Homo sapiens: one gene and its partner. The protein of the gene in region 2 binds, or shares a complex with, the protein of the main gene of each other region. Each region holds a gene or a part of one and is shown on either strand. Other genes may lie near its edges. The genes, in order: KCNJ4 and TAX1BP3. A codon is read from its position in the direction of its gene.

What was found.
Region 1: the proteins of TAX1BP3 (region 2) and KCNJ4 are in contact, whole or in part, in a crystal structure (PDB 3GJ9), measured with the Homo sapiens proteins. Residues at the interface, in NP_055419.1 of Homo sapiens: Leu27 (codon at 1,059), Ile28 (codon at 1,062), Leu29 (codon at 1,065), Gly30 (codon at 1,068), Phe31 (codon at 1,071), Ser32 (codon at 1,074), Ile33 (codon at 1,077), Gly34 (codon at 1,080), Gly35 (codon at 1,083), Asp38 (codon at 1,092), Gln39 (codon at 1,095), Gln43 (codon at 1,107), Asn44 (codon at 1,110), Thr58 (codon at 1,558), Arg59 (codon at 1,561), His90 (codon at 1,963), Asp91 (codon at 1,966), Arg94 (codon at 1,975), Leu97 (codon at 1,984), Thr98 (codon at 1,987); in NP_004972.1 of Homo sapiens: Arg440, Arg441, Glu442, Ser443, Ala444, Ile445.

Annotation. Positions count from the first base shown.
Region 1 is NC_000022.11:38,425,743-38,431,411, forward strand, and holds the end of KCNJ4 (inward rectifier potassium channel 4), read right to left. Parts: intron 2,430-5,669; 5' UTR 2,391-2,429; coding exon 1,053-2,390; 3' UTR 585-1,052; downstream 1-584. UniProt on the Homo sapiens protein: Inward rectifier potassium channels are characterized by a greater tendency to allow potassium to flow into the cell rather than out of it.
Region 2 is NC_000017.11:3,662,338-3,665,817, reverse strand, and holds the end of TAX1BP3 (tax1-binding protein 3), read left to right. Parts: intron 1-1,019; coding exon 1,020-1,139; intron 1,140-1,545; coding exon 1,546-1,623; intron 1,624-1,932; coding exon 1,933-2,070; 3' UTR 2,071-2,923; downstream 2,924-3,480. UniProt on the Homo sapiens protein: May regulate a number of protein-protein interactions by competing for PDZ domain binding sites. Binds CTNNB1 and may thereby act as an inhibitor of the Wnt signaling pathway. Competes with LIN7A for KCNJ4 binding, and thereby promotes KCNJ4 internalization.

The DNA of each region.
Region 1 (5,669 bases), on a different chromosome or scaffold from region 2:
ATCCCAGCACTTTGGGAGGCCAAGGTGGGTGGATCACCTGAGGTCAGGAGTTCGAGACCAGCCTGGCCAACATGGTGAAACCCCATCTTTACTAAAAATACAAAACTTAGCTGAGTATGGTGGCTCATGCCTGTAATCTCAGCTACTCAGGAGGCTGAGGCAGGAGAATCGCTCGAACCTGGGAAGCGGAGGTTGCAGTGAGCCGAGATTGCTCCATTGCACTCCAGCATGGGCAACAAGAGCAAAACTCCGTCTCAAGAAAAAAAAATAATAATAAAAAATAAAAAAAAAATATATATATATATATATATATATGGTTACAAACTCTGTTGTCAATCTGGGCTGGGCCCGGGGCTGGAGGGACTGCAGGGAGGGAGGGATGGTCCCTCATCCCACCCCTCAGAGTCCCTCCTCTGCACCCAAACCCAACACCATCCAAGGGCCAAGGTGGCTGGCGTTGAGGGCCTCAAGGGGCCAGCCAGCTGGGCAGGGGAAGGCGCTAGGCTTGATGGGCTGGGTGGGGAGGGGTGCACAGAGAGGGACTGCATCTCCCTGTCCAGCAGGTAAAAACGGCAGAAAGTGAATTTGGTGTCTCCATCTGTCTCCATTTATAGATATTTACAAAAGAAAGTCATGAGCAACAGGCCACAGTCATGCAAAAGAAACGCACCCCCCCCTCCCCAAACTAACCCCCTGCCCACCCTGAAACCCCGAGATGTCCCCCGCCCAGCAGTCCAGCCACCTTCCCCAAGGTTCTGAGAGCAAAGAGGGCACGTCCTTGAAGAGTCAGTGGGGGAAGGGTGGTGGATCCGGGGACCTAGAGCCACCAGAAGTAGGCGCTGGCGGAACTCAGGCTGATCGGGGCCGAGCTCTTCCCAGGCCTGGGTGCTGGAGTCAGGAGGAAGGGGTCCCCCAGTCTTTGAAACCCCCACCTTCCTCCAGAAGGTCCACGGAGCCAGGGTTGGCTCTGTCCTGAGTGTGGGAGGGGGTGTCCTGGCATCCCACCCCCGGCAGAGGCTCTTGTGGGCAGTGGTGAGGGCCGGGCCTGGAGGTCAGATGGCAGACTCCCTGCGGTAGGAGATGTTGTCCAGCGGGAGGGAAGCCTGCATGCGCTCCAGGTCCAGGTGGCTGCCGAACTCCAGCATCCGGATGATGCCCGCCTCCTCCTTGGAACCCGCCTCCAGGCCCAGGCCTGCGGCCACCGCGGCCGCCGCAGCTGCCTCCTCCTCCATCTCCTCTTCCTCCTGGCTCATAAGGGCCAGCTCGTTCTCGTAGCAGAAGGCACTGGGAGGGGGCGGTGGGGCGGGCAGCACGGTGATCTTACTCTCCTGCAGCTCCCGGGCCGAGCAGCAGGGCGTGCCGGCCACCTCGTAGGTCTTGTGAAAACGTGAGTAGTCCACCTTGTAGTGGCTCTTCTCCTCGAAGACCACAGGCTCAAAGCGGTGGCCCCACAGGATCTCGCTGGCCAGGTAGGAGCTGCGGGCCTGGGTGGTCATGGCCGTGGCCTCCACCATGCCCTCCAGGATGACCACGATCTCAAAGTCCTCCGACTCCAGCTCCTCCTTGCCCATGCCATAAAGCGGGCTGTCCTCGTCGATCTCGTGGACAATGATGATGGGCGACACCAGGAAGATGCGGTCCAGGCCGATGTCATAGCCCACGTTGAGGTCCCGCTGGTCCAGGGGCAGGTACTCGCCCTCCTGGGTCATGTAGGGCTTGATGAGCTGGGCCCGCACGTGGGCCTCCACAATGTGGCTCTTGCGCAGGTTGCCCACGCGCCACATGAGGCAGAGCTTGCCGTCGCGCACCGAAATGACCGCGTGGTGGCTGAACAGCAACGTCTGCGCCCGCTTCTTGGGCCGCGCCATCTTGGCCATGATGGTGCCAATCATGAAGGAGTCGATGACGCAGCCCACGATGGACTGGACCACCACAGCGATGACTGCCAGCGGGCACTCCTCTGTCACGCACCGGAACCCATAGCCGATGGTCGTCTGCGTCTCCACCGAGAACAGGAAGGCACCCAGGAAGCCGTTCACGTGCATGATGCAGGGCTTGGGGGCCACCGGGGCTGCTCCGCCACCACCCGCCGCCGGGCCCCCCGCCGCAGGCACCCCTGGGCTGGCCTCCAGGTCACCGTGGAAGAAGGCGATACACCAGAAGAGGAGGCCGAAAAAGAGCCAGGAGACAAGGAAGGCCGCGGAGAAGATCATGAGCATGTAGCGCCAGCGCGTGTCCACGCAGGTGGTGAAGATGTCCGCCATGTAGCGCTGCGACTTGTTGCTCAGGTTGGCGAAGTACACGTTGCATTGGCCGTTCTTCTTGACGAAGCGGTTGCGGCGCTTCCGCCGGGGCACGTGGGCCTGGCCGTTGCGGCTGTGTCCGTGCATGTCCTGAAGCCGGCGTGGTCACCTGGGAAGACGCAGGGCCTGCGGAGGAGAAGCCGGACAGGTGAGATGCTGGGGAGCGAGGGGCTCCCTCGGGGCCACTCAGACTCAGCCCCAAGACTCTCAGAAGCAGGTGAGCCTGGACCAGGACCTAAGACTTCCTCTGCCCCGGCAGGCGGAGGGTGGCAGCAGAGGTGGCTCTGATGACAGGGTCTGAGCCAGTGCCACCCAGTCCGGCCCAGCTTAGAGACTGGGGTCCATAGACCAGGAAGCTAAAGCCACAAGGATCCAGGTCCTAGTCCCTGCCCCTCAACACTGCCCCTCCGGCCCTCCTATGCTCACTGTTCTGGAAGCTTCCTGATGCCCATCTTGGTTCCTCCCTGTCCCTCTGTCCTGCTTGCCCTGAGCATAGGGAGCCACGGAGGCGCTAAGCCCGCTTCCCTCCCTGGATTCCATCTCTGCACTTTTGGGCTTCTCGGGGGCTGGACATCCTCCTGTGCACTAGCCACTGGCCACGTGTGGCTCTTTACATTTAATTAAAACGAAATAAAATATTAACTGCAGCTCCTTCCTTGCATGAGCCACATTTCAAGTGATCAGGAGCCACATGTGGTCAACGGCCACCACACTGGACAGAGAAGACACAGGAGAGTTCTATCACTGAGAAATTTCTGGCTGGGCACAGGGGCTCATGCCTGTGATCTCAGCATTTTAGGAGGCCGAGATGCAAAGATTGTTTGTGCCAGGAGTTTGAGACCAGCCTGGGCAACAGAGTGAGACCCCATCTCTACAAAAAATAAGAAAATTAGCCAGGCATGGTGGTGCATGCCTCTGGTACCAGCTACTCAGGAGGCTAAGGCAGGAGGATCTATTGAGCCCAGGGGGTCAAGGCTGCAGTGAGCTGTGATCATGCCACTGAACTCCAACCTGGGTCACAGAGCAAGACCCCATGTCAAAAAAAAAAAAAAAAAAAAAAAGAAAGAAAAAGTTCTACTGGGACCCGCAGCCCCACCTGGGTCTGAGCTCCTTTCTTAGACTCTTCTCTCCCAGTGTTGCTTTGAGTCCTTGAGCCCAAATTCCTGCCCAGTGCCCACACTTGTTAGGAGCAGTGGTGAGGGGAGAATCCAATGTGACAGTCAGGGTGGAGGAAGGGGGAGCCCCCAGCTCTGACTCCTCTGTAGACATCGCTATTCCCATGTCCCAGGTGGCTCAGAGATGGAAAGCCACCTGCCAGCCACAAAGCTGGCAGTGGATACAAACTTGCGTGGCACCAACATGAATGAGTTGATGGCGGGGAGACAGGGAGTGGGAGGGGAGGACACACCTCGGGCAATTCAGTTCACCTCTCAGAGCCTCCATGTCTTCATGTAACATGGGCACCAAAACTCCCTACCTCATGGGACCTACGGGGACAGCAGGTGCTGGGGTAAAGCCATCACCCTCCTGCCTTCCTTCCCACACTTCCCAGGAGCTGGTGACAGGCAGGATTTGCCTGTCAAGCATCCCCAGCTGTTGCAGCAGAAGAGGCCCCTCACCCCACTGGGTGGCGGGATGCGCCTCGGGCCCGTAGAGGACAGACCTTCTCTCCACCCCTCTCTGCCATTGCGTCCCCAGGGAAGACATGCTGCTGCCCCAGGCCCCAGCAGCTGGCAGGGCCAGGACTGGGCCTGGGTTCCCAATAACATTTTGGCCCAGAATTACATAAGGCTGGAAGTTTCTATTTTCTGTTCTATTCTTCTTCCTGATCTAATTGTGCATCTGTGGCAATGTTTATACACTTCCCCGGTTCAGGACAACTCGGTTGCCGCAGCAACCGGTACGCGCCAACGCTATAATTTAGAGATCAACAGCCTCAGAGCCTGCCTCTTCCCAAGAGAAACTCCCTCTCCGGGCCCAGGGAGAGTGAGCCCTGCCCCCACCTCCTCCCCCGCGGTCACCCACCCTGACTCCGAGTTCTTCTCCCTATTCCCCTGGTTCTCAAAGAGCTCCCTGGCTCCTACAGTCCTGGGTTGAAGTCCTAGATCCACTGTGTGACTTGGGCGAGCTGTTGACTACTCTGAACCTCAGTTTCCTCATCTTGAAAATGGGGCTGACTGGGTGCGGTGGCTCACGCCTGTAATCCCAGCACTTTGGGAGGCCGAGGCGGGTGGATCACCTGAGGTTGGGAGTTTGAGACCAGCCTGACCAACATGAAGAAACCCCGTCTCTACTGAAAATACAAAAATTAGGCCGGGCATGGTGGCGTGTGCCTGTAATCCCAGCTACTGGGGGGCTGAGGCAGGAGGATCGCTTGAACCTGGGAGGCAGAGGTTGCAGTGAGCCGAGATCGTGCCACTGCACTCCAGCCTGGGCAACAAAGTGAGACTTCGTCTCGAAAAAAAAAGAAAATGAGAAAATTGGGCCAATGAGATATCATGCTGGAGACCCGACAGGTCATGCAGGCACGGCCTCTAACGTAATGCTGGCCCTTCAGAGCTGGGAGGCCCAGACCCTCTTTGCCCCCTCCCGCAGCATCCCAGCAGCCAGGGCTCCAGGAGAAAGGCTTGGGGTTCTGGGGCCAGGCACACCTTCTGCTCTGTAAATAGAGTTTTCAGGGAGGCCTTTCTTTGCTAAATGTATTCCCCCTGTTCTGTCCCACTGCCTGAAATGGCTCCAGGGGCACCGCGGACTGTCAGGACAGGAGGAGCATAGGGTCACCGAGTTCAGGACCCTCATTTTATATCGGAGACCAAGGACATCCAGAGATAGGAAGGACTTGCTAAGAGTCCCAGAGTGGAGCCAGGTGGGCCAGCCCTGAACAAGGCCTCACCCCCACCCCAGAGCTCCTCATCCACTTCCTCCCTGCAGGGGGCTGGAGTGGGTTTTGGGGCAAGGGAAGAGAAGAAACCAGCCAGTCCAAACTGGACCACCATCCACAGGTGTGCAGGATAGAGGCAGAGGGGACAGGGTGTGGCGGCCCAGGCCTTCAACGGGTGAGGTCACTGAGCTCCAGAGAAGGTGGGGGGCCCTGCCCAAGGCCAAACACAAGCCCAGGGTTCCAGGGGATCCCTGGTTCTCTGCCCGGTGGGATTGCCTCCTGACATGGCGAGTTCACCTGGTGCTGCAGACGAGATCTCTTCCTGGACTTCCCCACCTCTGGAGGGGCCTTGGGGGTAAGGGAGCCGATCCCCTGATGGCTACAGAGATTGGGCATCCCCTCGCCAGCAGTGCCCACTCCTCCCCATTATCGAGTGCCCAGGGTCAATTCTGAGCTTCCACAATCCTCAGCCCCAGCGGCAACAC
Region 2 (3,480 bases):
ACGGCACCCTGTGCGCTGGTCCCCGTGGCCGGCAAGCCCTTCCTCTCCTTTCTTTTTTTTTTTTTTTTTTTTTTTGGAGCCCAGAGATCCTTTATTTTTTTTTGTTTAACACCTATTATGCCATGAATTCATAGGGAATAGGTTCCAGCAGCTCAGGCGCCTTCCCGTTGGTTCTCACAAAGTGTGCTTCCCTGGGTGGAGCAGGCTGGTGCTTTAGTTGAACCCAGGTACCTTTCTCTTTGGCTTCTTTCTTTTTCTGATCATTTTCCTTCACGCGTTCCAGGAAGCTATCTCGGCTCTTAGAGTGCTTTATGTGCTCAATACGCACATTAATTCTCTTGGCAAGAATCTTGCCCTTAACTTGTTTGTTTACAACAATGCCAACAGCATGCTGGGGAACATTGTAGACTCTTCCAGTTTTGCCATGGTAACCCTTGTGGGGCATTCCTTTTTGAACAGTACCCATTCCCTTGATGTCTACAGTATCACCTTTCTTATAGATTCGCATATATGTGGCCAAAGGAACATCTCCATGTTTTCTAAAAGGCCTAGAGAACATATATCCGGTGCCTCTCCTCTTTCCCTTTGTGTTCGTCATTTTGGCGAATTACTGGAAGATGGCGGTTCCGGCCGAAAGGAAACCCCTTCCTCTCCTTTCTATGCAAGTTTGATCTCTGCTTTTCCAGAGCACCTCCTGTGAGACGGGCTTCCCACCTACAGAAGCCACAGCACCTGGACTCTTGGGCCAGCAGGGGCTTCCACCACATGTTGACCAAGACTAGTGCCTAAGACTAACAGGGGAAGTGGGGACAGGTTGAGGACACAGGGCTGTGTGGGTGGATCAATGTGGCCAAGTTCTGAGTGCCAGCTCCTCAGCCTCCCAGGCTGGTGAGCAGCTGGATTCCTGCAGGGGCCTGGGACCCAGCCCCTTGTCATGGCTCTGAGGCTGCTGCTGGGAACACCCACCAGCCTAATTCTCCAACCACCCACTTCTCTCAACTGGCTTTTTTCTTTGCCAGCAAAGAGTTGAAATTCACAAGCTGCGTCAAGGTGAGAACTTAATCCTGGGTTTCAGCATTGGAGGTGGAATCGACCAGGATCCTTCCCAGAATCCCTTCTCTGAAGACAAGACGGACAAGGTGAGGGGGTCTGGGGTCCTGGGACCGCTCCATGGGGCACAGGGGCCTGAGATGGTGGGTCTCTGCTTCCTGGGCCTGCATGGAAGGAACAGACTTCATCTCTCAAACCATGCTCTCTAAGAAGGCATCGGAAGTGACCTAGTGAGAATAAGGACGGGTGGGGTGAGGAAGGGCTGCTCAGACAGAGCCCAGGAGGAGCAGGAGGCGGCCATCAGCAGGGCCGGTGCATGGTGGTGCAGCAACTCTGCCCCGGCTCTCTCAGAACAGTCCTCACTGACCATATGTGCTGGGAGAGGCTGGGTGCAGGGACAGAGGGACGGCTGAGAATGTGCCATGCTGGCTTCCGCTGTGTGATAAGGGGCCAGTCCAGTGACCACAGGGCTTGACTTGGGCTGCCCCTTTCCAGGGTATTTATGTCACACGGGTGTCTGAAGGAGGCCCTGCTGAAATCGCTGGGCTGCAGATTGGAGACAAGATCATGCAGGTAACAGGTGTCCCAAAGGAGGAGAAACAAGGTTTGGGCAAGCAGGTCTGAAGCACTTGGGGGTGGGGAGCTGCCCCAGCCTCCCAGCTGGGAGAGACTCACTGCAGCCAATTGGGAACCCATACTGGCATTGCCCCAGAGGACGCTGGCTTTCTCTCCTGTGTGTCTCAGCCACAGTGCTTGGTGTCTCCCAGCCCTGGGATGTTAGGCTGGGGGCCTACTTGAATGACCTGGGCCCCCAAAGCCCTCTGCTTCCAGATCCCAGAGGGCGGGGAGCTGAGGTGAGCCTGTGTTCTCTCCTGGGGCCAGGTGAACGGCTGGGACATGACCATGGTCACACACGACCAGGCCCGCAAGCGGCTCACCAAGCGCTCGGAGGAGGTGGTGCGTCTGCTGGTGACGCGGCAGTCGCTGCAGAAGGCCGTGCAGCAGTCCATGCTGTCCTAGCAGCCACCACCATCTGCGACTCCTGCCTGCCGCCTCTCTGTACAGTAACGCCACTTCCACACTCTGTCCCCATCTGGCTTCTGCTGACCGCTGGGCCCCAGCTCAGAAGGGCTATAGCTGGTCCCAGAGGCCTGGCCTGGCCTTCCTTCCCTTCTCCCATCCCTGGCCTGGGGCCTCTGGGACCGGCTTTCTCTCCTGGACACCGAGGATTGGAAATAAGGGCCTGGAGCTGAGTAGTAGCCAGTCTGCTGTGACCACAGGCTCAGGTCCGACCCTGCTGCTTGGCCACAGCAGTGGCTGGGCAAGTGGGAACCACTATCTCTTGGGAGCCCCCAAAAGCTGGGAAATGCTGGAGGAACCAGGCCTTTCCCGCTTTTGCCTGGCTGCAGGGTTCGGCTCCGCCCCTGCCCCCCAGCCCTCGTGTGTCCACACCGCAGTGCCTCTGCCCCTCGGGGGACTGGACACACATCCTGCCAGAGGCGCTACGAAGCTTTGCCCAGATGAAGCCAGGTGGGCTCCGCGTTCACTCCCACTCTCCCGAGGGGTGCTGGCCTCCCCAGGGTTTGCCTTCTTACGGATTTAGACGAGGTTCGAGGCTCACCTATCAGGGCAGCTCTCAGGATTGTCATTTTCCTCTTTGCCTGTGGGTTTAACTTTTGTATTTTTTTAATCACAAGTTTGATACAAAATGTTTTTATCGTACTCTTTGGAGATGCCCATTCTACTTTTGAATTTAGCTTTTACTAATTCGCATCTGGAAGCTCAGCAAGTGCACAAGCCTTACTTTGGTTACCGTGGAAACCACTGCCGCCCCTCCCCGATGTGGTGCGCTCAATAAAAATGCTGGAATTCACAGGGGGCTTTGCTGAGGCATGGGCTGGGATATCGGGGTGGGGGTGGCGGTGGGATATTGGGGCCAGAGCTGTGGTTTTAATGATGGCCCCATCCCCCACTGTTCTGGGACAAAGCTCAACTACTCCCAGGCCCACCTGCCTGAAAGCCCGGGGCTGGTGGAGCCGCAGCAGCTGCACTGCGCCTGACCAGAACCACATCTGTGGGAGTGTCTGGGAGCACTGGGGTGGGACCCTGGGGTGCGTGTGCTTTCTTGGGTGTTACTGTGAAGCCCCTACTTGCTCCCAACCTCCTTTTTGCAACCTAGCCTCAGCTCCCACCTGGGAGGGGCCGTAGGGACACCCAGAGGTGCCTGGGAGAGACCCCTGCCTATAAGACTCCCTGCCTATAAGGGCACTCCGTGTATCCCAGCGAGGGACACAACCCCACGTGTTGCTGGGGGCCGTGATCTGGCCAGATGGGGGTGAGTCAGAGAGCACCTGACTACCTGCGTACCACCTCTGGGAAGGTGTTAGCACTCCTGGACCTACCTAGCACTGCCAAATCAGATTTTAAAGA